Linked DNA regions of Homo sapiens. The protein of the gene in region 1 interacts with the protein of each later gene in a pairwise test. Each region holds a gene or a part of one and is shown in the gene's direction. Other genes may lie near its edges. The genes, in order: EXOC7, YAE1, SSC5D and SAPCD2.

Region 1 (7,782 bases):
CGAGGCAGGCGGATCACCTGAGGTCGGGAGTTCGAGACCAGCCTGATCAACATGGAAAAACCCCATCTCTACTAAAAATACAAAATTAGCCGGGTGTGGTGGCTCACGCCTGTAATCCCAGCTACTCAGTAGGCTGAGGCAGGAGAATCGCTTGAACCCGGGAGGCAGAGGTTGTGATGAGCCAAGATCTCGTCATTGCACTCCAGCCTGGGCAACAACAGTGAAACTCCATCTAAAAAAAAAAAAAATTATCTAGCCAGGCATGGGGGTGAGCACCTGTAATCCCAGCTACAGGAGGCTGAGGTGGGAAGATCACTTGAGCCCAGGAGATGAGACCAGCCTGGGCAGCATAGAGAGATTTTATCCTTAAGAGACTAATAATAATTAATTAAAAATAAATTTTAAGGCCAGGCACAGTGGCTCACACCTGTAATCCCAGCACTTTGGGAGGCCGAGGCGGGTGGACCACCTGAGGTCAGGAGTTTGTGACCAGCCTAGCCAACCTGGTGAAGCCCCATCTCCTCTACTAAAAATACAAAAAGTTAGCTGGGCGTGGTGACGGGTGCCTGTAATCCCAGCTACTCGGGAGGCTGAGGCAGGAGAATCACTTGAACCCGGGAGGCAGAGGTTGCAGTAAGCCGAGATCGTGCCATTATACTCCAGCCTGGGTGACAAAGTGAGACTCCGTCTCAAAAAGAAAAAATTTTTAAATAAATAAAATAAAATAATAAATTATAAAGATACATACGTTTTGATTTAGCAATTCAACTCTTGGAATGTGTCCGGCATATAGATGTCTATACAAAGGTGGTCACGTACAGGACACGTATATATGTATATTTTCTACCCCAAGGGGGCAGAATTTGCAATAGCAAGAAACCTGGAAACAACTTAAGTGTCCATTAATAGATAACTGGTCCAATCTATTATATCCATTCAGTGAAATACTATACAAAGAATGGAGCTGCCCGCCTTGGCCTCCCAAAGTGCTGGGATTACAAGTGTGAGCCACCATGCCTGGACAGCATTTTATTTTATTATTAATTTATTTAGATGGAGTCTCGCCCTGTCACCCAGGCTGGAGTGCAGCGGCGCAATCTCGGCTCACTGCAACCTCCACCTCCCGGGTTCAAGCGATTCTCCTGTCCAGGCTTCTCAAAGTGCTGGGATTACAAACATGAGCCACTGTGCCCGGCCAGAAGCAGATTTTTTTTTTTTTTTTTTTTGAGACAGAGTCTTGCTCTGTCACCCAGGCTGGAGTACAGTGGCATAATCTCAGCTCACTGCAACCTCTGCCTTCCTCGTTCAAGCAATTCTCTGCCTCAGCCTCCCAAGTAGCTGGGATTACAGGTACCCACCATGCCTGGCTAATTTTTGTATTTTTAGTAGAGACAGGGTTTCACCATATTGGCCAGGCTGGTCTTGAACTTCTGACCTCGTGATCCACCCGCCTTGGCCTCCCAAAGTGTTGGGATTACAGGCGTGAGCCAACACGCCTGACTCAGAAGCATTTTAATAGAAAGGTAATTTAAACTATTTTTAGAAACTAGAAAAAAAGAATCCTCCATCTGTTCTACTTACCCTTTAGTATTTTGTGGTGTTTTCCTGTAGTCATTTTTTGCAATGCATCTGTTATATGTTAAATGGTTGTAATCTCGATATATACTATTATGACCTGCTTTTCTGGTTATGTCATAGCATATACATTTGCAATATGGTTACAGGGCCAGGAAACATTAATTTGGAGGAATTATATACATCTGATTCCTCAGACAGAGCATGAAGTCTAAAATTAGGAAGTTATGAAACTGAAGAACACATTTGTGGGGTGGGGAGGCCCTTCCTTCCTTCTGTCCTTTCCTACCTTCCTTCCTTCTTACCTCCTTTCCTCCCTCTGGAAAGATCATCTCTGCAAGTGGGAAGTGGGGGCCACGACTATGGCTGGCACCTTGGTGTTCTGCACAAGTTTGTGGATGTGAGACCTAAGATTTCTGAGACTGCAGCTAAAGCACCACTTGTTCCTTTCGCTAAAGTAGCTCGTGTTGAGTATAGTTAGGAAATTATAGTTTTAGCTGAATCAATACCTATTTGTTGTCAACCCAAGGTTGATAATAGGTTGAGAATAATTTAAATTCATTTTTTCATTCTGTCTACTCTTAGTAAATATAGTTGTCTTGAATACAACATGCTTTTCACAATGAATTTTTTTGAAAATCAGATTGGCAGCTTTGCATAACAAACACCACTCCTGAGCTGCCCAGCATGGGGAGAAAGAAGAGACCGCCTGAGCCTCACCCTTTGCTGGCCAGCTGTGTTGACTTACTACAGCTGACTTCTCTGAGCCGGAGCTTCCTCGTCTGCACAAGGGAGACGACAGCTGGGCCTGACTCCCAGGTTTATGATAAGGATTAGAGGAGCATTAGCAAGGGCAATGTTTGTAGTAGAGACAGGCAAACAGAAGACTCTCAGTACATGGTATTGTACTAATGGTATCTAACCCCATTAGACTCAGACACTGAAGGAAATGCAGTAAAGCACACACAGCTGATTGACAAAAATGCAATGACATTGTACAGATTTGAAAATATTAGCTTCCTCACGCACATAAAGGATTCCCAAGACCTATGGAGCAAAAAAAAAACAAAATTTTTTTTTTGCTTGAGATGGAGTCTTGCTCTGTTGCCCAGGCTGGAGTGCAATGGCACCATCTCGGCTCACCGCAACCTTTGCCTCCTGGGTTCAAGCAATTCTGCCTCAGCCTCCCGAGTAGCTGGGACTACAGGTGCACACCACCACACCCAGCTAATTTTTGTATTTTTAGTAGAGATGGGGTTTCACTATGTTGGCCAGGCTGGTCTCGAACTCCTGACCTCGTGATCCACCCGCCTCGGCCTCCCAAAGTGCTGGGATTACAGGCATGAGCCACCACACCTGGCCGGAGCAAAATATTTATTATCAGTATTTTTATTAAGCATCTACTATGGGCCAGGAACTGTTTAGAGACTCAGGCCAAGCACGGTGGCTCACACCTGTAATCCCAGCACTTTGGGAGGCCGAGGCGGGCGGATCAACTGAGGTTGGGAGTTCAAGACTAGCCTGACCAACATGGAGAAACCCCATCTCTACTAAAAATACAAAATTAGCCAGGGTGGTGGCCCATGCCTGTAATCCCAGCTACTCGAGAGGCTGAGGCAGGAGAATCGCTTGAACCCGGGAGGCAGAAGTTGCAGTGAGGCGAGATCACGCCATTGCACTCGAGCCTGGGCAACACAGCAAGACTCCGTCTCAAGAAAAAAAAAAGAGAGAGAGAGAGAGACTCAGGTTAAATGCTGGACCAGGCCCTCAAAGGTAGTCCACCTGAGCCCAAAACACCCTCTCTACAGCGGCTAACTAGCCCCGCTACTCTATTCTGTGACATCTAACAGTTTAAACTTTCTCCTACTTAGCCCTTTGGACTACACAAGGACCATGTCAGCGAAATCATCCTGGGTATTTCCTGACACAGGAATCAGCCTTTTATCTCCCCCACCTACAACAGGATTGAAATTGTCCTCTTGCCTGAGGGAAGGCTGCCCATCCCTCTCCAGGCTCTGTGCACCCACTTCCTCCTCCTCCTCCTCTTCGGGTGACTATGGGTGGAGTGAGCGCTTGGGAACCCTAGAGCTTGGGTTCTTCCTTCTCTCCTTCTCTCCTTAGGCCGGGAGCAGGGGCTCACGCCTGTAATCTCAGGACTTTGGAAGGCCAAGGCGGGTGGATCACTTGAGGTCAGGAGTTCGAGACTAGCCTGGGCAACATGGCGAAACCCTGTCTCTACTAATAATACAAAAAAATTAGCCGGGCGTGTTGGCAGCCGCCTGTAATCCCAGCTACTCGGGACGCTGAGGCACGAGAATCACTTGAACCCGGGAGGCAGAGACTGCAATGAGCCAAGATCGTGCCACTTGCACTCCAGCCTGGGCGACAGAGTGAGACTCTCTCTCAAAAGAAAAGAAAGGAAAAAAAAAGCTTGGTGTCCCCCCTGCCCGCCCCAAACCTTCTCATCTACCAGCACATGCCTCCTTGTCTATCTTCCGGGTGTCTGGACACTGAGGCCACAGAAGGACTGAACCAAGCTGGTCGGCCTTGTCCTTTCTCAAGGCTGGGGGCCAGAGGCAGGGTGGGCAGGGACGGGTTAGAGGAAGGAGTAACTCGAGGTTTTGCAGGAGCTGGGTCTGCAACCACAACATCCAGCCCCGCAGGGAAGTTGATCCAGGGGCGCCCCCCACCCCGTCCCCTGGAGCTGCAGTTGGACGCTGGGTCTGGGCCTGGAGCTCCGGAGCAGCCCCGCCAGCCCACAGGATACGTTTTTGCGTAATGCAGGGTGGAAGGCGGAAACAAGTACACAAGCCCCTGGTTCATTACATGGACACACGTTAGGCATCTACTGTGTCACCTGCTCCGTGCGGGGCTTTGTGGGAAACGCAATTGGCCTTGGTGCCTGCCCATAGAATGCGACCTGGGGAAAGGAATTCGTCGCCTTCCCCAGCAGTCTTTATCAAAAGGGTCGGTCTTTCAACGAAAACAGCAAGTGAGCTCTAAGTGTCCTGCCAGCCGCGGGACATAAGGCCGATCGAAAACCTCTGCTGAGGCAAGGAACCCGCGTCGAGGTCCCTTGCAGCATCCGAATACACTTCTCTTCCCAGCCACGCTCAAAATGGCCGTCGGTCCGTTCTTGGGCTCCGCGCAGGCGCACTTCAGCCTGCGATTCCCAACATGGCTCCGCCCAGGCGTCCCGGGGCGGGACCAAGAGCGGAAGTGGGTGTGACGGGGACGGGGGCCCGGTGGGCCCGCGGAGGAAAGATACTGGGGAGTGGGAGCCGCGGGGTTCAGAGCGATGATTCCCCCACAGGAGGCATCCGCTCGACGGCGGGAGATTGAGGACAAGCTGAAGCAGGTGGGCGTGGGCCTGGGGAGGCTGGGGAGGAGGTGAGGGAAAGGGGCCAACAGCGGGGCCTGATTGTCTACTCATGGAGGAGGCAGGGGTGGGAGGGAGCGCACCCAGCGAGGAGATGGGGTTGGGGGCTAGGCCGTGGGGTTGGGACGCAGTGGTCTCCTTTAGCTTCTGGTTTCTGGTGATGTCCTCCCCTTGCCTGCCCCCAGGAGGAGGAGACTCTGTCCTTCATCCGAGACAGCCTGGAGAAGAGCGACCAGCTCACTAAGAACATGGTGAGTCTCCCCGCAGCTGGGGGAGAGGGCAGGCCTCCGGACCCTGGGGGAGAGCCTTGCGACCTGGCGGTTCCGGTTCCTGCGGCCTGGAGTTCTGGAATGGGCAGCGACGGAGGCAGTGTGTGGGTTTATCTAGCAACAGTTTGGCATCTCTCCTGCCTAGCCCCCTCCCCATGTTCCGTACCCTCACTGAGGAGGCTGCACTTCCCACTGGCCTGGACTTGCTGCTTTCTGTCTAAGCTCGCCATTCTTCCTTCTCTCCTTCTGCAAACACTCAGTGAGTCTGACCAGTTGGGCTAGGTACTGGGCATATGTCATTGTCAGTGGACTCTCTGCCCAGGAGGTTGGCACTTTGAGATTCCTGAGGGCAGAGAAGACTCAGCCTTCACTCCAGAGGACTTTAGGGAAAGAAAGAGCTCTAAAGTCAGGCAGATCTGGGATCTAGTCCTTGCCCTTCTGCTTAAATGTGCGGCTCCTGATAGGTAACTGGTGTCAGCGAATTCATCTGCTAAAACAGAGACTGTGCCAGCCTCCCAGTGTGTCTGTGAAGGTCATATGCGCTAATGCATGCGACTGCATCTTGCACAGTGCCTGGTATACAATAGGTGCTCAATAAGTGAGTTTCCTTCTTTATTCCTAGGGGAGACTGGAAAAGCACAAAGTGAGTAAATACAAACTTGTATTTGCATTTAGTCACACAATAATAAAGTCCTAGTCCTTTTCTAAAAATTTTAATTTTTAAATTTTTTTTTTTAGAGGCAGAGTCTGGCTGTGTTGTGCAGGCTAGAGTGCAGTGGCATGACTGTAGCTCACTGCAGTCTCTAACTCCTGGGCTCAGGCAGTCCTCCTGCCTCGGCCTCCTAGCAGCTGGGACTGTAGGCACACACCACCACGCCTTGCTAATTGTGTGTGTGTGTGTGTGTGTGTGTGTGTGTGTGTGTGTCTGTGTGTGTAGACAGGGTCTCACTGTGTTGTCCAGGCTTGTCTTGAACTCCTAGTCTCAAGCTAACCTCCCGCCTCAGCCTCCCAAATTCTGGGTATTACAGGCATGAACCATCACGCCCAGCCTCTAGTCCTTATTCAATGAGTTTCATCCTTAGAGAGGGTTTTGAAGATACAGCAATGCATTTGAGGCTACTCTGTATGAAACTACTTCCAGTCCGGTTTAGGAATGCTTCAGAGAGAACAGAAGTTGAGATTTGGCTTCAAAGGGTGGAAGGGAAGCCATCTTGGGCTGATTATTTTAAGAAGAATTAATTTGATGCTTGGTTTGCCTTCAAATAAAATTTCAACCAATTTGTCTTAGACCACCTACTATATGCCAGGCACATGATAGGTGCTGAAGATACAGTGGGGAACAGGTACACCCTGTTCCTTCGCTTGTGGAGTTTATTGTCTAGAAAACCAGAGAAAAGGCAGGAAATGCCGAAGGTGGGTGTGTAGAAGCAGTGCTGGGACCACTGTGAGTCCCAAGATCAAGAGGCTTCCCTCCCGCAGGTGTCTATCTTATCATCCTTTGAGAGCCGCCTTATGAAGCTGGAGAACTCCATCATCCCTGTGCACAAGCAGACGGAGAATCTGCAGCGGCTGCAGGAGAATGTTGAGAAGACGCTGTCCTGCCTGGACCATGTCATCAGCTACTACCATGTGGCCAGTGACACTGAGAAGATCATCAGAGAGGGGTGAGTGAGTGAGGCCCAGAGGGTCAATTCCTAATGCCTCCTGGGCCAACAGGAGGGTTGGTCTGTAATCCCAACAATTTGGGAGGCTGAGGTGGGAGGATCGCTTGAGACTAGGAGTTCAAGACCAGTCTGGACAACACAGTGAGACGCCTTTTAAGCCCTAGGCCTTAAAAGGCAGTGGGGGGATAGAATATATTTGAGCCTGGAGTCCCCTGTATTAATTTTCTTTTTCCCAAATACTGTGTCCTTAGTCCTTCTTCATCCCCCATGCCCCAGCCTGACCTGGCTCTTTTCTTTCCCAGCCCCACAGGTAGGCTGGAAGAGTACCTGGGAAGCATGGCCAAGATTCAGAAGGCAGTGGAGTATTTCCAGGACAACAGCCCAGACAGCCCGGAACTCAACAAAGTGGTAAGGGGTCCGCAGAATAACGTGAGAAGCTTGGGGATATCAGTCTCTGCCCTGGTCTCATGAGGGACATGGAGCCAGCTTGAGGATGTATGCAGTAGAATACACAGAAGGATATAGCACAGTACATCCTATAGGCATTAGGATCTCTGCTTCAAGAATTGCACATTTTTTATTATTAAAAATTCTTTATTATAAAACTTGTTAATGTATTATAAAAATTAAATTATAAATTACATATAAAATATAAACTTAACATTTGATTTGTTGTTGTTGTTGTTGTTGTTGTTGTTTTTTCCTGAGACAGAGTCTTGCTCTGTCACCCAAGCTGGAGTACAGTGCTCAGCTCACTGCAACCTCTGCCTCCCAGGTCCATGTGATTCTCCCACCTCAGCCTCCCAAGTAGCTGGGATTACAGGCACTCGCCACCGCACCTGGCTAATTTTTGTATTTTTAGTAGAGACGGGGTTTCGCCATGTTGGCCAGACTG
Region 2 (7,848 bases), on another chromosome or scaffold:
AGACTTATGTCCAGAATATACAAAGAACCTTTAAACACAATAAGAAAACAACCTAATTTTTTATAGACAAAGATTTCATTTAAAAAATATACAAATTGGCCAGGCGCGGTGGCTCATGCCTGTAATCCCAGCACGTTGAGAGGCCGAGGCGGGTGGATCATCTGAGGTCAGGAGTTCAAGACCAGCCTGGCCAATATGGTGAAACCTCATCTCTGCTAAAAATACAAAAATTAGCCGGGCATGGTAGCAGGCGCCTGTAATCTCAGCTTCTCGGGAGGCTGAGGCAGGAGAATCGCTTGAACCTGAAAAGCAGGGGTTGCAGTGAGCCGAGATTACGCCACTGCACTCCAGACTGGGAAAGAGAGCAAGACTCCATCTCCAAAAAAAAAGAAATACATATACAAATAACAAATAAGCACATGAAAATGTGTTCAATATCATAAGTCATCTGGAAAATGCAAATTAAAGCCACAGTAATAGATACTACTACACACTCATTAGAATAGCTAATGTTAAAAATACTGTCAATTCCAAGTGAGGCAGAGGATGTGGATCAACTGACACTCAAACATTGATGGTGGAAGTGTAAAGTGGTACTATCTCTTTGGAAACACAGCTTACAGTTTCTTATTGTATTAGTCCATTCTCATGCTGCCACAGAGGACCGCTCCAGACTGGCTAATTTATAAAGGAAAAAAAGTTTAATTGACTCACAGTTCCGCAGGGCTGGGGAGGCCTCAGGAAACTTAAAATCATGGTGGAAGGGGAAGCAAACACATCCCTCTTCACATGACGTCAGGAAGGAGAAGTGCCAAGCAAGAGGGGGAAAAGGCCCTTATAAAACCATCAGATCTCATGAGAACTCACTCACCATGACAAGAACAGCAGCATGAGGGTAACTGCCCCTATGATCCAATTAACTCCCACCAGGTCCCTCTCATGACACGTGGGGATTGTGAACTACAATTCAAGATGAGATGAGATTTCGGCGGGGACACAGCCAAACCATACCACTTGTTTTTTTGTTTTTTTTTCTTTTGAGACAGAGTCTCGCTCTGTCGCCCAGGCTAGAGTGCACTGGTGCGATCTCAGCTCACTGCAACCTCCACCTCCCAGGTTCAAGCGATTCTCCTGACTCAGCCTCCTGAGTAGCTGGGATTACAGGCGTGTGCCACCACGCTCAGCTAATTTTTGTATTTTTAGTAGAGATGGGGTTTCACCATGTTGGTCAGGCTGGTCTCAAACTCCTGATCTCATGATCTGCCCGCCTCGGCCTCCCAAAGTGCTGGGATTACAGGTGTGAGCCACCGTGCCCGGCCCATACCACTTATAATGTTAAATGTATACTTACTATATGACCAGCAATTCCACTTCTAGATATTTACCCAAGAGAAATGAAAACGTGTACACAAAATGGCATGTACAAAAATGTCCACAGCAGCTTTATTCATAATAGCCAAAAACTGGAAACAATCCAAATGTCCAAAAATGACTACATGAACAAATCATGGTATAGCCCTATAATGAAAATAGTACTTAGCAATAAAATAGATCAATCTACTGGTACATGCAACCAAATAAATGAATCTCAAAAACATGTTGAGTCAAAGAAGCCAAATATATTAAAGGACATATACAATTCCATTTCTATGAAATTCTAAACTGGCAAAACTAATCTAGTGATAAAAATTGGATCAAGGGTTGCCAGGGATGAGAGACTGACCACAAAGGAGCACGAGGAAATTCTCTGGGGTGATGGAAATTTTCTATATCTTCATAGGTGGTGTTTACACTCAAAATGTATGCATGTTACTGCATGATTTTAAAAATGTGTTCCTGACATTTACAAATATAGTACTAAATAAACACTAAATACTAAACAAACATGTCATTACTATATTTAATAATATTTGTTGGTATTTCAAGTGGAATATTTATCTCATTTACATTTCTAGATGATTATTACTAGAAGAGGCTATTGGTGTGTTTATTTTTCTTATATTCACAGACTTTATCAAATTTCTTTATTCTGTTATTTTTTAAGCAAAGTCTTTTGGGTTTTCTAGGTATATAATCATATAATGACCAAAAGGAATATCTTAGGCTGGGCATGGTGGTTCATGCCTATAATCACAGCACTTTGAAAGGCTGAGGCAGAAGGATCACTTAAGGCCAGGAGTTCAAAACCAGCCTGGGCAACAAAGCGAGACCCCCGTCTCTACTAAAAATAATTTAAAAATTAGCTGGGCATTGTGGTGCGTGCCTGTAGTCCCAACTACCTGGGAAACTGAGGCAGGAGGATTGCTTGAACCCAGGTGTTTGAGGTTGCAGTGAGCTATGATTGCACCACTGCATTCCAGCTTTGGTGGCAGAACAAGATCCCGTCTCATTTTTTAAAAAGGAATATCTTCATCTTTTATTATCCAACATTTATACATGTTATTTTGTTTACTTCTCTTATTGCAAGTGCTAGTGTGCTAGTCTCTAAAAGAATATTAAGTAATAATAGTGACTACCAGATGCCCTCTCCTTTCTATATGTTAAAGGAAATATCTGAACATCTAAGTGTTTAAAATACTACTCGTTGGAATTTTTGTAAAGTCTTTACCAATTTGTAGTTTCTATTTCTACTTTATTTTGTTAGAAATGATTTTTAAATTTTTTCAAATAACTTTTTAGCATTTATTAATATAACATGTTTTTTCCCTTTTATATTGTTGATGCAGGCTAGGCACAGTGGCTCATGCCTGTAATCCCAGCACTTTGGGAGGCTGACACAGGAGGATAGCTTGAGCTCAGAAGTTGGAGACCAGCCTAGGCAACATAGTGAGACTCCTGTCTCTACAAAAAAATCAAAAAATTAGCCAGGTGCAGTGGTACATGCCTGTAGTCCTAGCTACTCAAGAGGTTGAGGCAGGAGGATAGCTCAAGCCCAGGAGATCAAGGATGCAGTGAGTTGTGATCTCACCACTGCACTCCAGCCTGGGTGACAGAGCAAGACGCTGTTTTAAAAAAAAAAAAAATAGTCAATGCAATGAAATATTATTGATGTCCTAATATTGCAAAAGTTTGCTTTCCTGGTACAAAACCTCTTAAATTATTCTTTTGATAAAGTACTACCAGGTTGGTGCAAAAGTAAACCCCAATTAATTTTGCACCAACCTACTAGATTCTCTTTTGGATATATATTCACAAGCTAACTTGAACTTTGGGGTTTTTCTGGTACTATCTTTATGAAGTTACAGTAAGGCTGGCTTCATGAAATGATTTAAGGAGTTTCTTCTTTTTCTCTCCCCTAAAATGGTAAAAATAGTTTAAGACTCCATCATTCCTTAAAGATTGCAAAGGACTTAATGTGAAACTCCCAAGTCTCCATGACATTTTTAATAGTAGATATTTAATGTCCAATTTTTCTATGGTAATTAGTCTCTTCATGACCCTACTTCTTGGGTCAATTTTCTTAGAAAGTCATTCATATCTCTCAGGTTTTCGAATGTGTTGCTTTTGAGTTTTAGTTGGTAATTAATATTTTAATCTCCTTCTGCATCAGTGGTTATCTCATTTCTCATTCTTGTATAATTTTGTTCTCTTTAAAAATCTGGGTCATGACAGGATTATCTATCTTATTGGTGTTTTCAAATAATACAAAAAAGAATTGGACTTACTTATTCAAGTTTTGAGGTTTTCTATTTTATTGTTATCTTTATTGCTTACTACCATTTTGTTCCTAATAAAGATATATACATATATCTTAATATATTTACATTAATAAAATATACATATTTGTAGTTTATATATTTTTTATTTGTGGGATGCCAAATTCTCTCTGGAGATTTAAAATTGTAACATGAACCAACCACCCACTCCCACACACTTATGGTTCTTACTGTGCTTATTTAAAAATTTTTTTCATAGCATTTATTTATGATCTTCTAACAAACCTTATGCTACTTATATATTGCTTATTGTTTATCCTGTCAATTTTACATGACTATAAAGTCGACAAGGGTTGGGAACTTCCGTCTGTTCATTGATGTATCCCAAAGCCTGGAATGGTACCTGACACAAGGTAGGTGTTCAATAAATTGTTAGATAAATAAATCATAATCACATGACTCATTTTACCCAGGCAAAGGGCAAAACAGGAATACTACAGGTATTCATTCATTCACCAAAATAGAGTTCAGCATTTACTATGTGTCAGAACTGTCCTGGTGTTGACACAAGTCCCCACCCTTACCAAACCAACTGTTTACTTTAGGGCATATGAACAGGAATGGGAGGCAGAAGGATATCGTGAATCAATGAAAAAATATATTGGCTTTACAAATGTACTCTATATTTCTTACTAATCTCAAATTGGCTACAGTACCTCGCTTTTCGATCCTATTTTCCTTTACTCCACAATCCTAACAGTTTAAAATGTCGGCTTGTCAAATCCTTTAAATGCAGAGGAGATTCCAAAAGAGACAAAGTATTTGGGTGGTAATCGCCCATCGACTTTACTACCTTTAATAGTTTACCAAAGCGCGCGAATGTAAAACCCAGACCATGGTAAGACTACGGTGGAAATGGAAGGTGTCTCACTGAGGGTCCCGGTTGCCTTCTGCAAAGGTGAAGGTCGTGCCGGCCACGCGAGGAAATCTGCCTCGCTCACAACTCACAGGCACACATCAACACTGCCAACCGAGGGAGCCCAAAATCACCGCAAGCGAAAGGCTCCGGCGGCGGCCACGGGCCACAGCCCGCCTCCGCGCACACGCAGCCCCTCCCGAGCCTCCACTCGCCGTCTTCGCCCCGCCTTCGGACCGGAAGGAGTTGTTGGCGCTTCCGGTGGCCTGCGACCCCGTAATTGCCTCGGTGATGTCGTGGGTTCAAGCAGCCTCCTTGATCCAGGGCCCTGGAGACAAAGGGGACGTGTTTGACGAAGAAGCAGACGAGTCGCTCCTGGCGCAGCGGGAATGGCAGAGTAACATGCAAAGACGAGTCAAAGTAAACGTGGTGTGGACGGCGCGGGGTGCTGGGTTGTGGGAAGAGGCGCGGAGTTGTGAAGAAGCTGGGTCCAGAGTGGCCCCAGCCTGGCCCGGCGCTGCTCTCTTTATCCCTAGGGACCCGGTCCGACCCGCGTCTTGCTAGGATTTCTCGATGGTTACTTGAAAGCGTGTAAAACAACAAGACGCATTCTTTGAGCGCCTACGGGATGCGTTAGAAACTGAGGACCGACCAAAATTAACTATGTGTAGACTTTGAACAGTTTGCAGTTTGTTGAGGATCACAGGGAAAGGAGCTGGAGAGAAACATACACTATACTTATTATGGCTGTCAAAGGACGTGTACGCAGTTTATATGGGTGGCTTGAATGGGTAGGGAGCCTAAAGTTAAGGAGTAGTGTTAATCAAGACATATTGAAAAGATGAACTAAAGCATGCTGTCAGAGGACAATAAGGGAAAGCTAATGTGGAATACTGGTGTCTAGGTAAGGGAATATTAAAGTTGGTTTCTTTTTTATTTGTTAGATGTAACTTTTTCATCTCTAATTTGTCTCACTATTCATTGAAACTAAGCTTAATTTCTGTGTGCAGCCTACAGTATTTCTGGGTGAGGACCAAATAGTGAGGTCCACATCCACTTAATATATTTGCCAACCATTAAATTGCCGCTAAAGCTGCAGTTGGGAATCTGCCCTGTTTAATATTTCAGTAGAGTGGTATTTGCTTAGCCCAAAAACCATGTTGTCAATTACAAAAATGCTTTATGTGAGACTGGGGCCACACTAATAAGTATTGAGCATCTTTTAAATGCTGTGGCACCGTGAGAGATGCAGAACGAAATCACTACCCACAGAGCTTTTGCAGGTTAGTTGAATTTAGGTATTATGCAAAATTTCTGAAACCAGACTTCTCATCATCCTTTTTTTTTTAAACAATTTCCTCTCTCTGCTTTGCCCTGTCTCCTCACCCACCCACACCATTCCAATCAGTTGGCAAGAGCCCAGATGTGTAATTTTCCATATATCCTTTTTGTGAAGACATTGCTAATGCTGGGTTTTGTTTTTTGTTTTTTGGTTTTTTTAATCTTTTGAAGTGATTAGAAAAGTTTATTTTGTGCTTAGGATATTTTTCTAAGGCATCACAGGTTACACATCCAAACTCTTCAATGGTATAATATTTTATATTCTAAAGGAGAGACCTTTAAAGAAAACTTGTACATTATGCTACTATAAGTCTAGTGGATTCTCCTATCCGCAGAGCCTAGAAAGAAGGGGACATTACAGAAATTGTCTACTACATAATGGTCAGTTGATTCATTGTATTTATGGTTTTCCCCCTTCTTGTAAGGTGAAAACTATGTATGCCCTTTAAGGAGTATGCTCTTTAAGGAGTAAAAATACACTAAGTGTACCATCCTGTTGATTTCTACCTGTAAGATACCACACAATATTAGCAGTTAGGAAAGAACAGGAAAATATGAAGTTTGTATCTTAAAATATAAAAATGTGTGGCGAAACCCCATCTCTACTAAAAATACAAAAATTAGCCGGGTATAGTGGCGTGCACCTATAGTCCCAGCTACTTGGGAGGCTGAGGCAGAAGAATCACTTGAATCCGGGAGGCAGAGGTTGCAGTGAGCTGAGGTCATGCCACTGCACTCCAGCCTGGGTGACAGAGCGCGACTCCATCTCAAAAAATAATGATAATAATAAATATATATATATATAGTTAATGATTTTGAAACATCAAGCATTACAGACTGTAAAATTAATTAAGAACTTTCTGTATATGATGCCAAAGATACATTTAAAACATATACAAGAAGATGCTTTTTCCTGAGTAGAATGCAAACTTTGTTTTATATTAACCTTCTGTGAATTTTCAAAATGTAAAATACCAGGACTTTTCCACATCAGACAAAAATCAGGAATGTTCACCTTCACATCCAAAAAGAAAAATTTTAAAAGACAATTTCAAGTAGTTCAGCAAGAATGATTTAAAATCTGAAATGAATGGCCAAAATTTTAAATTATCAACAGACAGTTCAATTTGATGGATCTCTCAGTAAACTTCAGTTTGAAACAACAACAAAAAATGCTGTTTACTAAATCATAAAAGATAATTCCAGGATATTATCCAATTTGAAAAATAAAAAATGTAACCCGTAATAAATAAGAAAAATACAAGAGAAAATCAACCTTTATTGGAATCGAGAGAATACCATGGACTTTAAAACTTCCTAAATCAGTAGCTTATCCTATATTACCATGTGTAGAAAACTGCAACTAATTAATGTAAGGTAGTTTTTATTAGTTGCATAACTTAAAAATATGAGGAAATTTTGGAATATATCTCTAAAACCACGGAATTGTCACTGAAATATATATTTCTTGAGACAGTGGGCAAAGTTCCCATTTATGGGAAATACTTTCCTTTTTTCACACACATGAAACTGAGAAAAATTATATCAAATGAGAAATATTTTTCTCTAAAATAATCTTAAGTACCCCAATAATGCAATACTGGGGAAATGTAAATTTTCAAAACTCAGATTTGAAACAGGTTATTATTAAACAAATATACATAAATCTTATTGTTTGGCAAGATTTTTCAAAAATTAGAGAACTAGTTAAACCACCATACTGTCCTTAAATCATATTTCAAACTTACATACCTAGTGCTTTTATGTTCTGAATGTAGAGTCTTCAATTTAATGACAATCTAGACTGAATGCTGTAATATACAAGCAAGTCACAGTTCACTTCAAACCAAAAGAAATAATCAGTCTTCTGTTTTTATCAAAATCATGATATTAAGATAACTATACAATTTATCTGTGACCAGTGATGGACCCAGA
Region 3 (7,913 bases), on another chromosome or scaffold:
CAGGCCCTGGGGGTCTAGGGGTGCAGGGAGCGGCCAGCGCTGGGGCCAGCGGGACAGGGCAGAGCCTCATCGTTCTGCAGAATGTGGGGGGTGGGGAGGCAGGGCCACAGGAAATGAGTGGGGTGCAGCTCCAGCCCCTCCGACCAGCCCCAGAAGTAACCACGGTCCAGCTCCAGCCAGCGCAGGAGGTGACCACAGTCCAGCTCCAGCCAGCACAGGAAGTAACCACGGTCCAGCTCCAGCCAGCACAGGAGGTGACCACGGTCCAGCTCCAGCCCGTGGCCGGCCAGCTCTCCAATTCCAGTGGGGGAGCTGTGGCTACTGAGGCACCCAACCTGCTGGTTGTTCAGAGCGGGGCAGCTGAGGAGTTGCTCACTGGCCCGGGCCCCGGGGAGGCGGGGGATGGCGAGGCCAGCACTGGTGTGGTCCAGGATGTCCTCTTTGAGACACTCCAGACGGACGAGGGCTTGCAGAGCGTGCTGGTGCTGAGCGGGGCCGATGGCGAACAGACTCGACTCTGCGTACAGGAGGTAGAAACACTTCCTCCTGGGCTGACGGAGCCGCCTGCCACCGGCCCACCCGGACAGAAACTCCTCATCATCCGCAGCGCCCCAGCCACTGAGCTGCTGGACAGCAGCAACACTGGAGGAGGCACCGCCACGCTGCAGCTCCTGGCCCCACCGCCGTCAGGCCCAGCCTCGGGCCCCGCGGGGCTCCCCGGGGCTCCAGCCTCCCAGATGGTGCAAGTGGTCCCCGCAGGAGCTGGGCCTGGTGTTATGACCCCTCAGGGCCTGCCCTCCATCCAGATTGTCCAGACTCTACCCGCAGTCCAGCTGGTGCACACGTTTTGAGGAGAGGCAGTGATTCCCCTCCCGCCCCGCACAGAGACCCCGACTCACTGCCAGCCGGGGCGGGGCAGGGTGCCGCAGGCTGGGCTTGCTAATAAAGACCCGAGTCTCCCCGCCTGTGTTTTGTTTTCCTGGGGGGAGGGAAGGGGGCAAAGTCATGGTCCTAGCCCCCGCCTGGGAGCGTGGAGTCTTAAGTCTTGCGTCCTGGGTCGCAGATGGCTTGTTCTGCATCCTGGGGCCAGCCACTACGTAGGGCTCAGTTCCCCTGTCCTGAAACCAAAAAAGGCCGCAGGGGTCATTATAGTGGGGAGGTGGTGACATCAGACTCCAGGGAGTGCTACTTGTTCACTGTAGGTCGCCCCGCTGCCCCCCTCGTGTGAGAAGTAGGGGGATCCTTATGCGGAAGGGTTCTGCGACCCCGGGCGCCCCGTGGGTGGAGTGGGGTCCCTGGGGATGGGGGAGTCGGGCGCCAGGATGCTGAGCGTGGCCGGCTCCTCCCGCGAAGGCCCCGGCACGGATGAGAATCCACGCGCTGGCGTCGCCGCCCGGCGCTCAGGTTGCTCAGCAACGAGGGAACGTGGGGCGGGAGCTCGCGCTGGTCCCCAGCCCGCCGCCCGTCTCCTGCCGGCTTCCGCTCCCGTTCTTCCCCAGGTCCCCTTTCCCCGTTGCTCCTTCTCTAGGGATAGGAGAGGTCGCTTCCCGGCCCTCCGCAGGGTCACAGCTCGGTTCCTCCCAGCCCGCCCTCCGGGGAGCTTAGCAACGGTTGCTACGGCCCGGAGCGGGCGCCGCCCCGCCCCACCGCGCGCGGTCTGACGTCACTTCCGCCCGCGACCCCCTTCCAGACCCGCTCCCGAAACCTTGTCGAAGGACCAAAGGCGACCGGTGCAGGTGCTTGCTGGTCCTTGTTCTTGTGGCGCGGGACGGGGACGACTGTGGGGGAGGGGGCGCTGGGGACCGGGGTGGAGCGAGCGTGGTCCGTTCTCTGGCATGTGGGGAGGGTGTTCGTGGACCCCAGTGCCTGGGAGGGAGCCCCGTGCTGCAGTGTTGGCGTCCGCAGCGCGTTTGGGAGTGTAGATCGCTGAATAATACGGGGGAGGGGGGATCCCGGGAGACTTTAGCAAGGTCGCTGAGTATTGTGGGGGGCGCCTGTCCTGCCGAGATCCTCGCTTGGGGGCCCCGAGGGTTCTCAGTGTCCTGATCTGGGAAGTGCCGTTGCTGCTCCCTACCCCTCGGGGGAGCTTTGGGGACAGAGGTGCCCCCCTGACGCTGACCTACTTATGTTCTCACCAGGTGCACGACGCCAGCTCCCTTCTGGGGGGCCGGGGCCTGGGGGTTGCCATGGCCCCCAGCCACCTGTCAGTGCGGGAGATGAGGGAAGATGAGAAGCCCCTGGTGCTGGAGATGCTGAAGGTGAGAGGCAGGGGCCCCAGGGGGCCTGGGAGTGGCTGCAGTGGGGGAATTGCAAGTGGATTCAGCCACCCCCTCCCACCCACCTGAGCCAGCCTGGACCCCTGGAGCGGGATCTTTTCCTCCTGAGCCTCAGCCGCCCTGCTGCTGAAAACCACAGCAGGTGTGGCAGGTGGGGGCTCACCCCCCCAGCCCTACTGGGACCCCAGCACCAACGCCCTCCCTGGTCTCCCATCTCCAGTCGGCTGTGCACGCCAGCACAACAGCCAGCTCTGTGCCTCGGACCCCAACTCTTCAAAGCACAGCCCAGCACCCCAACCTAGCCCAGCAGCCTCCCTCCAGCCTCCACTCCAGCCTGAGGCAACCTCCCTGTCCTTACTTCCCTGGGGCCTCACTGCGGCATTGCTACTGAATTGAGTGCCCCCACAGCTCCTAATTCACTCATCCATCCATCATTCGCTCTCGTTCATTCATTCACTCCATACCCAGTGTGCCACACTGAACATCGGACTGTGCTGCCTTCCCTTCCCATTTGGGAGCTCTCACCCCGCCCCGGGCAGGGTCTACCTCCTCTCTTTGTCCAGGAGGCCCTAGCGTTTCGGATGGCTGAGCCACCCCTCCTGCCCACAGGCCGGCGTGAAGGACACGGAAAACCGCGTGGCCCTCCATGCCTTGACACGGCCGCCGGCCCTGCTCCTCCTGGCGGCGGCCAGCAGCGGCCTGCGCTTTGTCCTGGCTTCCTTCGCCCTGGCCCTCCTCCTGCCGGTGTTCCTGGCTGTGGCCGCCGTGAAGCTGGGCCTGCGGGCCCGATGGGGCTCGCTGCCTCCGCCGGGTGGCCTGGGGGGCCCCTGGGTGGCCGTGCGGGGCTCCGGTGACGTGTGTGGGGTCCTGGCTCTGGCCCCTGGCACAAATGCAGGGGACGGGGCCCGGGTCACCCGCCTGTCTGTCTCTCGCTGGCACCGCCGCCGGGGCGTGGGCAGGAGGCTGCTGGCCTTCGCGGAGGCCCGGGCTCGGGCCTGGGCTGGGGGCATGGGGGAGCCCCGGGCCCGGCTCGTGGTCCCCGTGGCTGTGGCCGCCTGGGGGGTGGGAGGGATGCTGGAGGGCTGTGGCTACCAGGCCGAGGGGGGCTGGGGCTGCCTGGGCTACACGCTGGTGAGGGAATTCAGCAAAGACCTGTGAAGCTACAGACTGACAGCCAGGGCAGGGGAGGAGGGAGGGGCGCCAGCACCTGATGATCGCCTACTGTCTGCGGGTTCTTTTACCTGCTCTCCCTCAGTGAGTCCTCAACCACCCTGGGCCCAGAAACAGAGGCCTGCCGAGGGGAGGAGCCTGGCCTCTGTCCACCCGTCAGCAGTGTGAAGTCTGTTGTGTTTGAGCTTCTCAGAGTGGAATGACTCCTTTTCCTTCCTGGCCCTCGGGGGCCTCTCGAGGTCAGCCTCTCCAACCCCTACCTCAGCTCCTGTCTGCACTGAGAAACCTCCCCGGGTGATGTCTGCAAAGTCTGTGCTGTCCGTGCCCCAGGCTGGGAGAGCTATCTGGGGAGGGGGAGAGGAGGCCGAGCAGAATACACCCCAGAGTTAGGGTTTGCGACTCCGCCTCCCTGGGACCTGGATTGGGTCAGATGCCTGTCCTTGGAGGGGACAAGGTTGACTGCTTAGGAGGCGCGACGCACAGGGCTGCCAGGCCTGGCCCCTCTCTGGGAAGGTTGAGAGCTGAGACGGGCAGCCCTGTCCCTTCCTCCAGATCCGTCTGGTTTTTTACACCGTTTGTTAATAAAGCCTGAAACCGCTGTGTGCCTGTCTCTTCTCTGATGGCTTTCCCAGTCTGTCTCCGGACACCCCCGCCCATTTCTGTCTGGCTTCTCCTTTCCCCAGTTAACATTAATTGTTGGGGGACGGTGCTGGACTGGGAGAAGGGGAGGCTGTGAGCTCAGGGGCAGCCCGAGGCCCTGCCAGCCCTTCTGAGTCACGCTCCCCATTACCGAATTTTTTCCGCCTCACAGCTGCCTGGTGTGCAGGCAGTGGGGTGTGTGTGTGTGTGTGTGAGTGTGTGGAAGAGTGTGTGGAGCCCCTCCCCTTCCCAAGCCTTGACCCTTGTGCTGCTTATCCCCCGACCCCAGCTCCCTCTGGGACAGTGAAGTTCAACCTCTCCTCTCTCAGCTGGGGACTGGGGGCTTCACACTCAGATCCACCAGTGAGTGGGAGGACTGGAGGGCCGGGTCTTTCAGTCTCTTTTCCTAACCCAGGAAGTCCCTCCTGGTGTCTGGCTGCAAATCTTCTTGCTGCTGCACCAAGAACCCCAGGTCTGCCCAGCCCCCAACCCTAGCAGTGGTCTCACTGGATTTCCCTGACCAGACAAGAGGGGAGACAGCAGGTGGGCGCCCCTCCCGCTCATGCTGCGCCCCCCCCGCACACGTCCCCCAACCCCTGTCCTGTGCCTTCCTGCAGCCGGCCACCCCCTAAGCATCTCTGGGCACAGCACTTTGCTGGCTGGAGCCTGCCTGGCCGTCGTCTCCATCTCCCGTGTGGGTGTCTGCAGTTGGACACCCTCCCTCCCGCCCGCCACCCCCCTCCCCCCCATGCCTCAGCAGACGGCCAGCCCCCTCCCGCCCCCCCTCCCCCCCACCGTCCCCTGCCGCCTCCCTGCAGCCTCTTTCTTCCTCCTGGCAAAGCGTCCAGCCCTGCCTGCTCCTCCTCGGGCCTGGGCGCCTCCAGCAGGCACTTCCCTCCCTCCCTCTCTCCCCAGCTGCCTCCTCCTCTTCTCTCCCCGCTCTCCTTCCCCTTTCACCCCATCCCCTGCCCTGGCTGCAACCATGAGGGTCTTGGCCTGCCTCCTTGGTGAGTGATCCATTCTCCTTGGGGACTCGGGGGGCCTAGGCCCCCACCTCTGACCCCTTAGCTTGTCCAGTTTAGGGACTCAAACTTCCGGGACTGGTCGCTGGTGCTCCTGCATACCCTGACATCCCTTCTGAGGATCCCTGCTCAATCTGCCCAGCCTTCTGCCAGCCCAGAAGCCCAAGGGACCTGCCCCCTGCCCGCCCCCCAGCCCTGACCCTGCGGGGGATCTCCCAGACATCTGACCTTTAGCCAAGCCCATGTGTGTGTGTGTGTGTGTGTGTGTGTGTGTGTGTGTGTGTGTTGGGGTATTCAAGATGAGGGGCCTGCGCTGGAGAAAGGGCCACCCCCGGCCTGCCCCTCACACTGCCCCACCCTCCGCCCTCCCTTCCAGCGGCCCTGGTGGGGATCCAGGCTGTTGGTAAGTGCCCAGACTCCTCCCATCTGCCCGCCCCCCCCCCCAGGCCTCCCCCTTCTGCCCATCCAGGCCTGGCCTCACCCCCACTGGGTCCCCGGCCCATCCGAATTCCACTGTGACCTTGGCCCCAGCTCCGCAAGGGAATCCCCCAGGTGTCTGGCCGCATCTCTCTGAGCACCCAGGAGTCTGGGCCCAGGGGCCAGTGAGCAGGGCCACTGGCCTACAGACAGTACCTGCAGGACAGCCACCTGCCCCTACAGTTGCCCTGGCCTTGGGGCCCCCAGGATGCCCCTCCCCAGTCACAGCCATTCCTCCAACCCTCAGAGCGCCTGCGCCTGGCCGATGGCCCCCATGGGTGCGCTGGCCGCCTGGAGGTCTGGCATGGCGGGCGCTGGGGCACCGTGTGTGATGACGGCTGGGACCTGCGCGATGCCGCCGTGGCCTGCCGGCAGCTGGGCTGCGGAGGGGCACTGGCCGCCCCGGGAGGCGCCTTCTTCGGGGAGGGGGCAGGGCCTGTGTGGCTCAGCGAGCTGGCTTGCCGGGGCAACGAGGGGCAGCTGGGCCTCTGCCACCACCGGGGCTGGAAGGCCCACATCTGCTCCCACGAGGAGGACGCGGGCGTCGTCTGCGCAGGTGAGGACACCCTGGCTGCTCCTTCAGGGGGAGCTCCTTTGGAGATGACCCAGGAACCCCAAGTCCTTAGCCCCAGCAAGTCTGAGTGTTCAGCAGTTCAGAGACACCCAACCTCCCATCCCCTCCAAAGCCAGGTGGCTAACTCCCTCTTCCAGGGACCCAAATGGCCTGGATTCCCCTCCTCTCCTCATAGCTTCTGTCCCTGCCCCCCCGCCGCAGGTCAGCGTGTGGCTAACTCCAGGGACGACTCAACATCTCCCCTGGATGGGGCTCCCTGGCCAGGGCTGTTGCTGGAGCTGAGCCCCAGCACGGAGGAGCCCCTGGTGACACATGGTGAGCCCAGGGGACTGCCCTGCCAACCCCCACCCAGCGTGCCCTCCTGCCCCCCCCGAGGGGAGAGGGACTGCCCTGCCAACCCCCACCCAGCGTGCCCTCCTGCCCCCACCGAGGGGAGAGGGACCTCTGCAGTATGAACTCCCAGGGGACACACAGCCCGCCCCCTGCCCCGCCCCGTCTCCTTCATAGCCTAGGGAGTCCTCCATCACTTCAGACCCTCAGAGACGGAGGCCTGGGCCCCCAGGTGGGAGGAAGGATGAGGGGCTCAGCTCCTGACCCCTGGCTGTCTCCACTCCCAGCCCCCCGCCCAGCTGGGAACCCCCAGAACGCCTCCCGGAAGAAGAGCCCCCGGCCCAAGCAGGCCAAGTCCACCCGGGCCCCTCTGCTGACGACAGGAGCCCCCCGCCAAGGTAAGCTCCCTGCAGGCTCCCCCGACCCCAAGGCTGGTTGCTGTGAGGCCCAGGGCCCAGAAAAACTGAGGACCTGCGGGCGCCCTCTCCTTAGCCGGGGCCCTGGAGGGATCCCAGTGTTCCCCGCGTCCCTCCCCCGGGGATTTAGACGGCCAGGCCTGGTCTCCCCTCTTCTTCCTGCCCTGTCAGGAGGCCCAGGTGTCCTGGCCCGCTCAGGTCGTGGACTCACCTCTTCACGGGCTGCCGGCGGACAGATCTCAGGCCACCGCTCCCTCAGGCCTGTTTCCCCAGGTGGAAATCGAGGAAGGGGTGTTTGAATCATTTCTCACTGGCCACACCGTCCCCTCCCTGCTCACCCCACAGAGCGGCTGCGCCTGGTCTCTGGCCCCCACAGGTGCGCCGGACGCCTGGAGGTCTGGCACGGCGGGCGCTGGGGCACCGTATGTGACGATGGCTGGGACCTGCGCGACGCTGCTGTAGCCTGCCGGGAACTGGGCTGTGGGGGGGCGCTGGCTGCCCCCGGCGGTGCCAGATTCGGGCCTGGTGCAGGGCCCGTGTGGATGGACGATGTGGGGTGTGGAGGAGGAGAACAGGCCCTCCGAGACTGCCCCCGAAGCCCCTGGGGCCGGAGCAACTGTGACCACAGCGAGGATGCGGGGCTGGTCTGCACCGGTACGTCGGGCTGGGGCCTGGCCCCCTCCTGTCTTCCTCAGACCCCAGCTCCCTCTTGCCCCTCCAGGAAGCTGCAGCGGGCCTGCTCCCAGCTCTGCCTCCTGCCCGCCTGCTCTCTGCATGCCCAGCGCCCACTCACCACGCTCTCCAGCCCCTCCTTCCACAGCTCCTGCCGTTCTCCTTGCCAGGAATGGGAGGAGCAGGCTTGAGGCTTGGGCTAGTGCTCAGCCCTGTCCCGGGGCCTAGGCCAGTGACCGTTTGTTTAAGCCTCAGTTTTCCTGAAGGAGCGATGGAGCTAAGAATGCCTGCCTCAGGCTTGAGCCAAGTCCTGGAACGCAAGAAGCCCTGCCTGCCC
Region 4 (5,950 bases), on another chromosome or scaffold:
TGACCTCAACTGATCCCCCCCCGCCCCAGCTTCCCAAAGTGCTGGGATTACAGGTGTGAGCCACCGTGCCCGGCAAGGGATCTTTTTTTTTTTTGAGACAAAGTTTTGCTGTGTTGCCCAGCCTGGAGTGCAGTGGCGCAATCTGGGCTCAGTGGAACCTCTGCCTCCCAGGCTCAAGCAATCCTCCTGCCTCAGGCTCCTGAGTAGCCGGGACCACAGGTGCATGCCACTGCACCAGGCTAATTTTTGTGTTTCTAATAGAAATGGGGTATTGCCGGCCGGGCACAGTGGCTCACGCCTGTAATTCCAGCACTTTGGGAGGCTGAGGTGGGTGGATCACCTGAGGTCAGGAGTTCAGGACCAGCCTGGTCAACATGGTGAAACCTCATCTCTACTAAAAAATACAAAAAGTAGCTGGGCATGGTAGTGGGTGTCTGTAATCCCAGCTACTCGGGAGGCTGAGACCGGAGAATCACTTGAACCTGGGAGGCGGAGGTTGCAGTGAGCCAAGATCATACCATTGCACTCCAGCCTGGGCAACAGGAACAAAACAACGTCTCAAGAAAAAAAGGAAGAAATGGGGTTTTGCCATGTTGCCCAGGCTGGTCTCAAACTCCTGAGCTCAAGCGATCCACCCGCCTTGGTCCCCAAAAGTGCTGGGATTACAGGCGTGAGCCACTGTGCCCGGCCATGCGGGACTAACTTTCTATCAGAGTCACCATCCTGGGAAAAGTTAGGTTTCCGTCATTCACACCCACATCTCCTGCTGCCTTGCAGGACCCCGTGCAGATGGGAGAGGCGTAGTCAGGACCAGAACCCCCCCGCCCACTCCTCCCTTACCCAGCTGCCTTGGAGACCCAGGGTGTGCCTGCCATGTTCTGGGCACTGGGTGTGCAGAAGAGAGCTGGATAAGGCCTCTGGCCCCAGAGAGCTCACGGACCGATGAGGGGGCAGGGTGTGTGTTTGAGCAAACATGCGGGCTTGGCGGCACAGCCCTCCCCAAGCCAGTGTGAGGAGCTGGAAAGGGGAGAGGGACCAAACTCCAGCCTGGCACAGAGGCTACACGTGGGCCATGCCAGGCTGGTGCCCGAGACCTCGAGGGTGGGCTGAGATGTGGAGGCCGCTGCACCTCAGCAGAGCCTGGCCAGGCAGGTCTGGAGGTGAGCCAGGCCCATGCCTCTCCATAACAGGTGCAGTGGCGTGCAGGGCCCTGGAGGCGGACTCAGGGGATGCCCGGCGGGCTCCCCGTGCCCGAGGGGAACGTCGGAGGCACACCATCGCCAGCGGCGTGGACTGCGGCCTGGTGAGCAGGGACTGGGGCTCTGTGGGGCTCTCCATCTTGCCTGGAGGCTGGAGGCCGGGATGGGAGCAGGGGGGCCTTGAGCCTGGGGGAGTCCATGGCGGAAGTACAGTCAGCTCTGGACATCTCTCTCCCTACCTGGGCTTGACTCCCCTGGAGGGATGGCCCAGGGTCAGGCAGAGGGAGGTCAAGAGGTCGTTTAGGGCAGCTATGGTGGCTGCCCAGCCCGCCTCACGAGGTTGCTGCTGCAAGCCAGTCTGGCTTCCCAGCTGTGTGCTCACCACAGGCAGACTTCGGGAGGGTGGGCTCAGCTGAAGGGTCCGTCACCCCTCCCCCAGGGAAGCCTGAGTGGAGGGGCTAAGAAAGGCCAAGACCCCTCAGCAGGAGGAACGGGGCTCCTGCTCCAAATGGGCCTATGGGGCTCACACATGCAGGTGTCAGCAGAAGCGTGCGTCCGTGGGTGTTTGCAAACGTGTACACGTGCTGCTGCATTTGTGTCTGTGGCTCTGGTGCCCACCCACAGGTGAGCTCATGCATGTGTGGACGTGTGCGTGCTCACTGGGGCCAGGCATTCCATGTAAATGCACGTATTGCAGCTGAAGCAGATGAAGGAGCTGGAGCAGGAGAAGGAGGTGCTGCTGCAGGGTTTGGAGATGATGGCGCGGGGCCGCGACTGGTACCAGCAGCAGCTGCAACGAGTGCAGGAGCGCCAGCGCCGCCTGGGCCAGAGCAGAGCCAGCGCCGTGAGTGCCACAGCCCTGTCCCCAGATCCCCACACATGGGGACCCCAGCTCACCCCAGGCACCCTTGGGCATTGTGGCTGCCCCTATTCCCGGACACAGTGGCTGTCGATTCCACCCAGGATGCTGAGACATCCCTTTCTCCGCCTGTGGCTGCCCCACTCCTAGGGCCTAAGGTGTCTTGGGCAGACCTCCCACCTCAGCAATGCCCCTGGGACCCTCTAGGCTCTCTGCAGCATCAGGAGGCAGGAGAGCCACCTGTGGGAACCCCTATCAAGGCACCTTGCTGGCCCCGGCTGGACCTCCTCTCTGACCGCTTGTCCTCTGCTTTCTTCCCAGGACTTTGGGGCTGCAGGGAGCCCCCGCCCACTGGGGCGGCTACTGCCCAAGGTACAAGAGGTGGCCCGGTGCCTGGGGGAGCTGCTGGCTGCAGCCTGTGCCAGCCGGGTGAGTGTACCCCAAACCCCCACACCCACGCTGGGGCCCAGGCCAGTTTAGTGCTTCCCCGCCCTCGTCCAGGCCTGCCTAATCCTGCCCTCCCGCAGGCCCTGCCCCCGTCCTCCTCCGGGCCCCCCTGCCCTGCCCTGACGTCCACCTCACCCCCGGTCTGGCAGCAGCAGACCATCCTCATGCTGAAGGAGCAGAACCGACTCCTCACCCAGGTAGGGCAGGCGCGGGAGGGGTGCAGGGGTGGGGGTGAGGCCCCGCAGGCCTTGACCAACTGTGCACCTGCCCAGGAGGTGACCGAGAAGAGTGAGCGCATCACGCAGCTGGAGCAGGAGAAGTCGGCGCTCATTAAGCAGCTGTTTGAGGCCCGCGCCCTGAGCCAGCAGGACGGGGGACCTCTGGATTCCACCTTCATCTAGTCCTTGTGGGCCGCGTGGGCCCCCAGGGCCAGCCTGGCACTCAGCCCTTCGAGGGTGGGCGCCCCATCGCACCCACCCTCTCTGGCTGGAGACCCCCGGCAGGCCCAGGCACAGTCCCGGAGTGGGCGCCTTCCTGCCGCCCTTGCCAGATGGGCTCCCCAGGCCTGCCCCCGGCTGGTCCCCGCACCGAGCGCTTGACTCCGTTTTGGCTCCTGGTGCTGACATGGGCTGGGGCTCTCTTGAGTCCGCATAGTCCGCAGCTACTACTGCCGCTGTCAGTGGACAGTGGGGTACCCCTCCATGAGTTAGCGTCCCCCCGTTTCCAGCGGTGCCGCCCTGGGTCCCATCTTCAGGGAAAGGCACTGCCCACGCCAGGCTGCACTTCCAACAACGGGCAGCAGAGGGCGCGGGGCGGCTCCGACGCGGGTCCAAGGGCAGCTTCCCGCTCAACCAGGGCACCAGGACGAGGTGGCTGTAGCTCGGACGGACGGAAGTAGATGGAGGGGGTGGGGACGGCCTGTAAGCGGGGGGTGCCTGCCTGGCTGGGGAGCCCCAGGGATAGCGGTCGGACTTCAGGTTCTGGCCAAGGCTGAGGGACCCTGGCTGCAGCGGATCGGCACGCCGGGTGGGCGAGAGCTTGGCCTGCATGTGCCTCCCACAGACCCTGGGGTGATGGCCTTCCCCCTCTTGGCCGGGACGTTGCCCCACGTTGAGTCCCACACAACATCCTGTGAGCCTGGCTCCCCAGGAGGGCCCCCAGACAGCTCCCAGGCACGTCATAGGCAAAGCCTGTTCCCCCGACTCAGGATTTCCAAGGCCTGGGGTCCTGCTCACCCCCCTTTGCTCTCACGCCCAGCCTGTCCCCAGGTTTCAGCTGGGAGAGGCCACCTCCCTCAGCCAAGGAAAACGAGAACCCCCAGGGTACAGGAGGAGGCTGGGGCAGGTCCCCTTGGGTGTCACTCCCTCAGCCCCTGCCCAGGCCCACTCCCGCTGGTGCTGGAGTACGCACTGGTGGGGGGGCCCTGCTCAGCCCAACCTGGAGGGTCCCAGTGTCACCAGAACCAGGGGCACGGCAACAGCATCGATGGGTTCTGCAGCCCAGGGCCCCCGATGCGGGGTCAGTGCGTGGGGGGCGCAGGGCCCCCGATGCCGATGCGGGGTCAGTGTGTGTGGGGCGCAGGGCCTCCGATGCGGGGTCAGTGCGTGGGGGGCGCAGGGCCCCCTCGTGTCCAGGGCACTTTGGTACACTGTCCCACAAGGCACCTGTCTCAGAGGAGGGGCCCTGGCAGGCAGCGTGGCAACTCCCTTCCGGAGCCCAGCTCCATGCTAACCTGCCCACAGCAACCCCACAGAGCCACATTCCCTGCTGCACCTGGTCTGCAGGGGTGTCCCAGGACAGGCCCAAGTCAGCCCAGCATGCAGCTGCCCTCCTACCCTGAAGATGGGAGTGGGCTTTCCAGGGGACATAAGGATGTCAGGCCTGGACCTCCTGGGCAGGAAAGGGTGCAGGTCCTGAGGGCCTGTGCCCCACAGCCCCAGCACCAGGTGGACTGCAGCGCAGTGGGTGGGCCAGTGGCAGCCAGGGAGAAGCCCCCCGTCAGCAGGCTGGGGTCTGCCCACCAGGGCCTCCCCACGTCTGCCTTTGAGGGTGCCTGCCATGCCCTGGGGGATCCTGGCATCTTTACTGGACTGGAAGCAGGAGACAGAACAGTGTCTGTCCCGGGGTGACTTCATCAGGAGACCGCCCACATAGAGCTGGACCCCGCAGCTGAAGCGGAAATGTGAGACAGGCTGGCACCTCCGGAAAAACTGCCTTTCAGCCTTGGTGTTCCGTGCAAGGTGAAAAGAAATAGGTCCTCCCAGTTTACAGCTTGAAATCAGGCTAGTGAGTGGCCCTGGAGACCACGAGGGGAGAATTTAAAGGCCCCGGCTGGCAGGGTCTAGGTGGCTGGCAGAGGCACATGCAGACCCTGCCTGGAGCCTGCCCTAGGACGCTGGGCGGGTCAGTCTCCGTGCAGGATGTGAGCAGCGTCCCTGGGCTCTATCCGCGAGGTGCCAGTAGCGTGTGCAGGTACATACACGTGCGTGCACACTGTGATGACACCCGGAAATGTCTCAGGATGTTGAAATGTGTCCTTGGGGGCAGAAGTGTCCCCAGTTGAGAATCTGCCCCAGAGGAACACACCCACACCAGGCCTCAGGATTTTGTGTTGATCAAGTTCCAAGGAAAAGGAACATCTCAGCCGGGCGTGGTGGTTCACGCCTGGAATCCCAGCACTTGAGGCCAGGAGTTCCAGAGCAGCCTGGGCAACGCAGTGAGAGACCCCATCTCTACAAAAAAAAAAAAGAAAGAAAGAAAATGAGAGATCCAGGTTTAAAAATTCATAAACACCACAAGGAAACAATACACTATGAGACCCAGCAGAAGCAACAGATTGACTCTAGACCCAGATACTAGAATTATCAGAGAGAATATAAAGTAACAGTGTTTTATATATCTAAAGAAATAAAAGAGATTTCTGGAAACATGAACAAGGAGTGGTATTTATAGTTCCTTACTCCATGAAAAGCATGATCTCTTAATGCTATAAAGAAGACTAGGCCGGGCGCAGTGGCTCATGCTTGTGGTCCCAGCACTTTGGGAGGCCGAGGTGGGTGGATCACCCGAGGCCAGGAGTTTGAGACCAGCCTGGCCAACATGGTAAAACCCCGTCTCTACTAAAAATACAAAAATTAGCCAGGCGTGGTGTCGGGCGCCTGTAGTCCCAGCTACTCGGGAGGCTGAGGCAGGAGAATTGCTTGAACCCAGGAGGCAGAGATTGCAGTGAGCTGAGATGGCACCACTGCACTCCAGCCTGGGCTACAGAATGAGACTCCGTCTCAAAAAAATAATATTAATAAAATAAACATGTATCGGTCGGGTGCAGTGGCTCACACCAGTAATCCCAGCCTTTTGTGAGGCAGAGGCGGGAGGGTTGCTTCAGCCCAGGAGTTTGAGGTCAGCCTGGGCAATACGGCAAAACCCTGACTCTACCAAAAATACA

Evidence for each region.
Region 2: the proteins of EXOC7 (region 1) and YAE1 interact in binary tests that used the Homo sapiens proteins (3 or more experiments, as listed by UniProt).
Region 3: the proteins of EXOC7 (region 1) and SSC5D interact in binary tests that used the Homo sapiens proteins (3 or more experiments, as listed by UniProt).
Region 4: the proteins of EXOC7 (region 1) and SAPCD2 interact in binary tests that used the Homo sapiens proteins (3 or more experiments, as listed by UniProt).

Annotation. Positions count from the first base shown.
Region 1 is NC_000017.11:76,100,784-76,108,565, reverse strand, and holds the start of EXOC7 (exocyst complex component 7), read left to right. Parts: upstream 1-4,778; 5' UTR 4,779-4,873; coding exon 4,874-4,933; intron 4,934-4,994; exon of another isoform or gene 4,995-5,139; coding exon 5,140-5,205; intron 5,206-6,702; coding exon 6,703-6,887; intron 6,888-7,189; coding exon 7,190-7,295; coding exon of another isoform or gene 7,296-7,358; exon of another isoform or gene 7,359-7,555; intron 7,556-7,782. UniProt on the Homo sapiens protein: Component of the exocyst complex involved in the docking of exocytic vesicles with fusion sites on the plasma membrane.
Region 2 is NC_000007.14:39,561,556-39,569,403, forward strand, and holds the start of YAE1 (protein YAE1 homolog), read left to right. Parts: upstream 1-4,848; 5' UTR 4,849-4,863; coding exon 4,864-4,992; intron 4,993-7,848. UniProt on the Homo sapiens protein: The complex LTO1:YAE1 functions as a target specific adapter that probably recruits apo-ABCE1 to the cytosolic iron-sulfur protein assembly (CIA) complex machinery. May be required for biogenesis of the large ribosomal subunit and initiation of translation.
Region 3 is NC_000019.10:55,483,523-55,491,435, forward strand, and holds the start of SSC5D (soluble scavenger receptor cysteine-rich domain-containing protein SSC5D isoform 1 precursor), read left to right. Parts: upstream 1-4,913; 5' UTR 4,914-5,067; coding exon 5,068-5,092; intron 5,093-5,483; coding exon 5,484-5,510; intron 5,511-5,831; coding exon 5,832-6,140; intron 6,141-6,359; coding exon 6,360-6,473; intron 6,474-6,775; coding exon 6,776-6,886; intron 6,887-7,249; coding exon 7,250-7,558; intron 7,559-7,913. Other genes in the region: ZNF628 (zinc finger protein 628), read left to right, coding at 1-851; NAT14 (probable N-acetyltransferase 14), read left to right, coding at 2,187-2,258, 2,886-3,434.
Region 4 is NC_000009.12:137,061,615-137,067,564, reverse strand, and holds the end of SAPCD2 (suppressor APC domain-containing protein 2), read left to right. Parts: intron 1-1,190; coding exon 1,191-1,303; intron 1,304-1,896; coding exon 1,897-2,043; intron 2,044-2,379; coding exon 2,380-2,487; intron 2,488-2,585; coding exon 2,586-2,702; intron 2,703-2,777; coding exon 2,778-2,906; 3' UTR 2,907-5,438; downstream 5,439-5,950. UniProt on the Homo sapiens protein: Plays a role in planar mitotic spindle orientation in retinal progenitor cells (RPCs) and promotes the production of symmetric terminal divisions. Negatively regulates the mitotic apical cortex localization of GPSM2.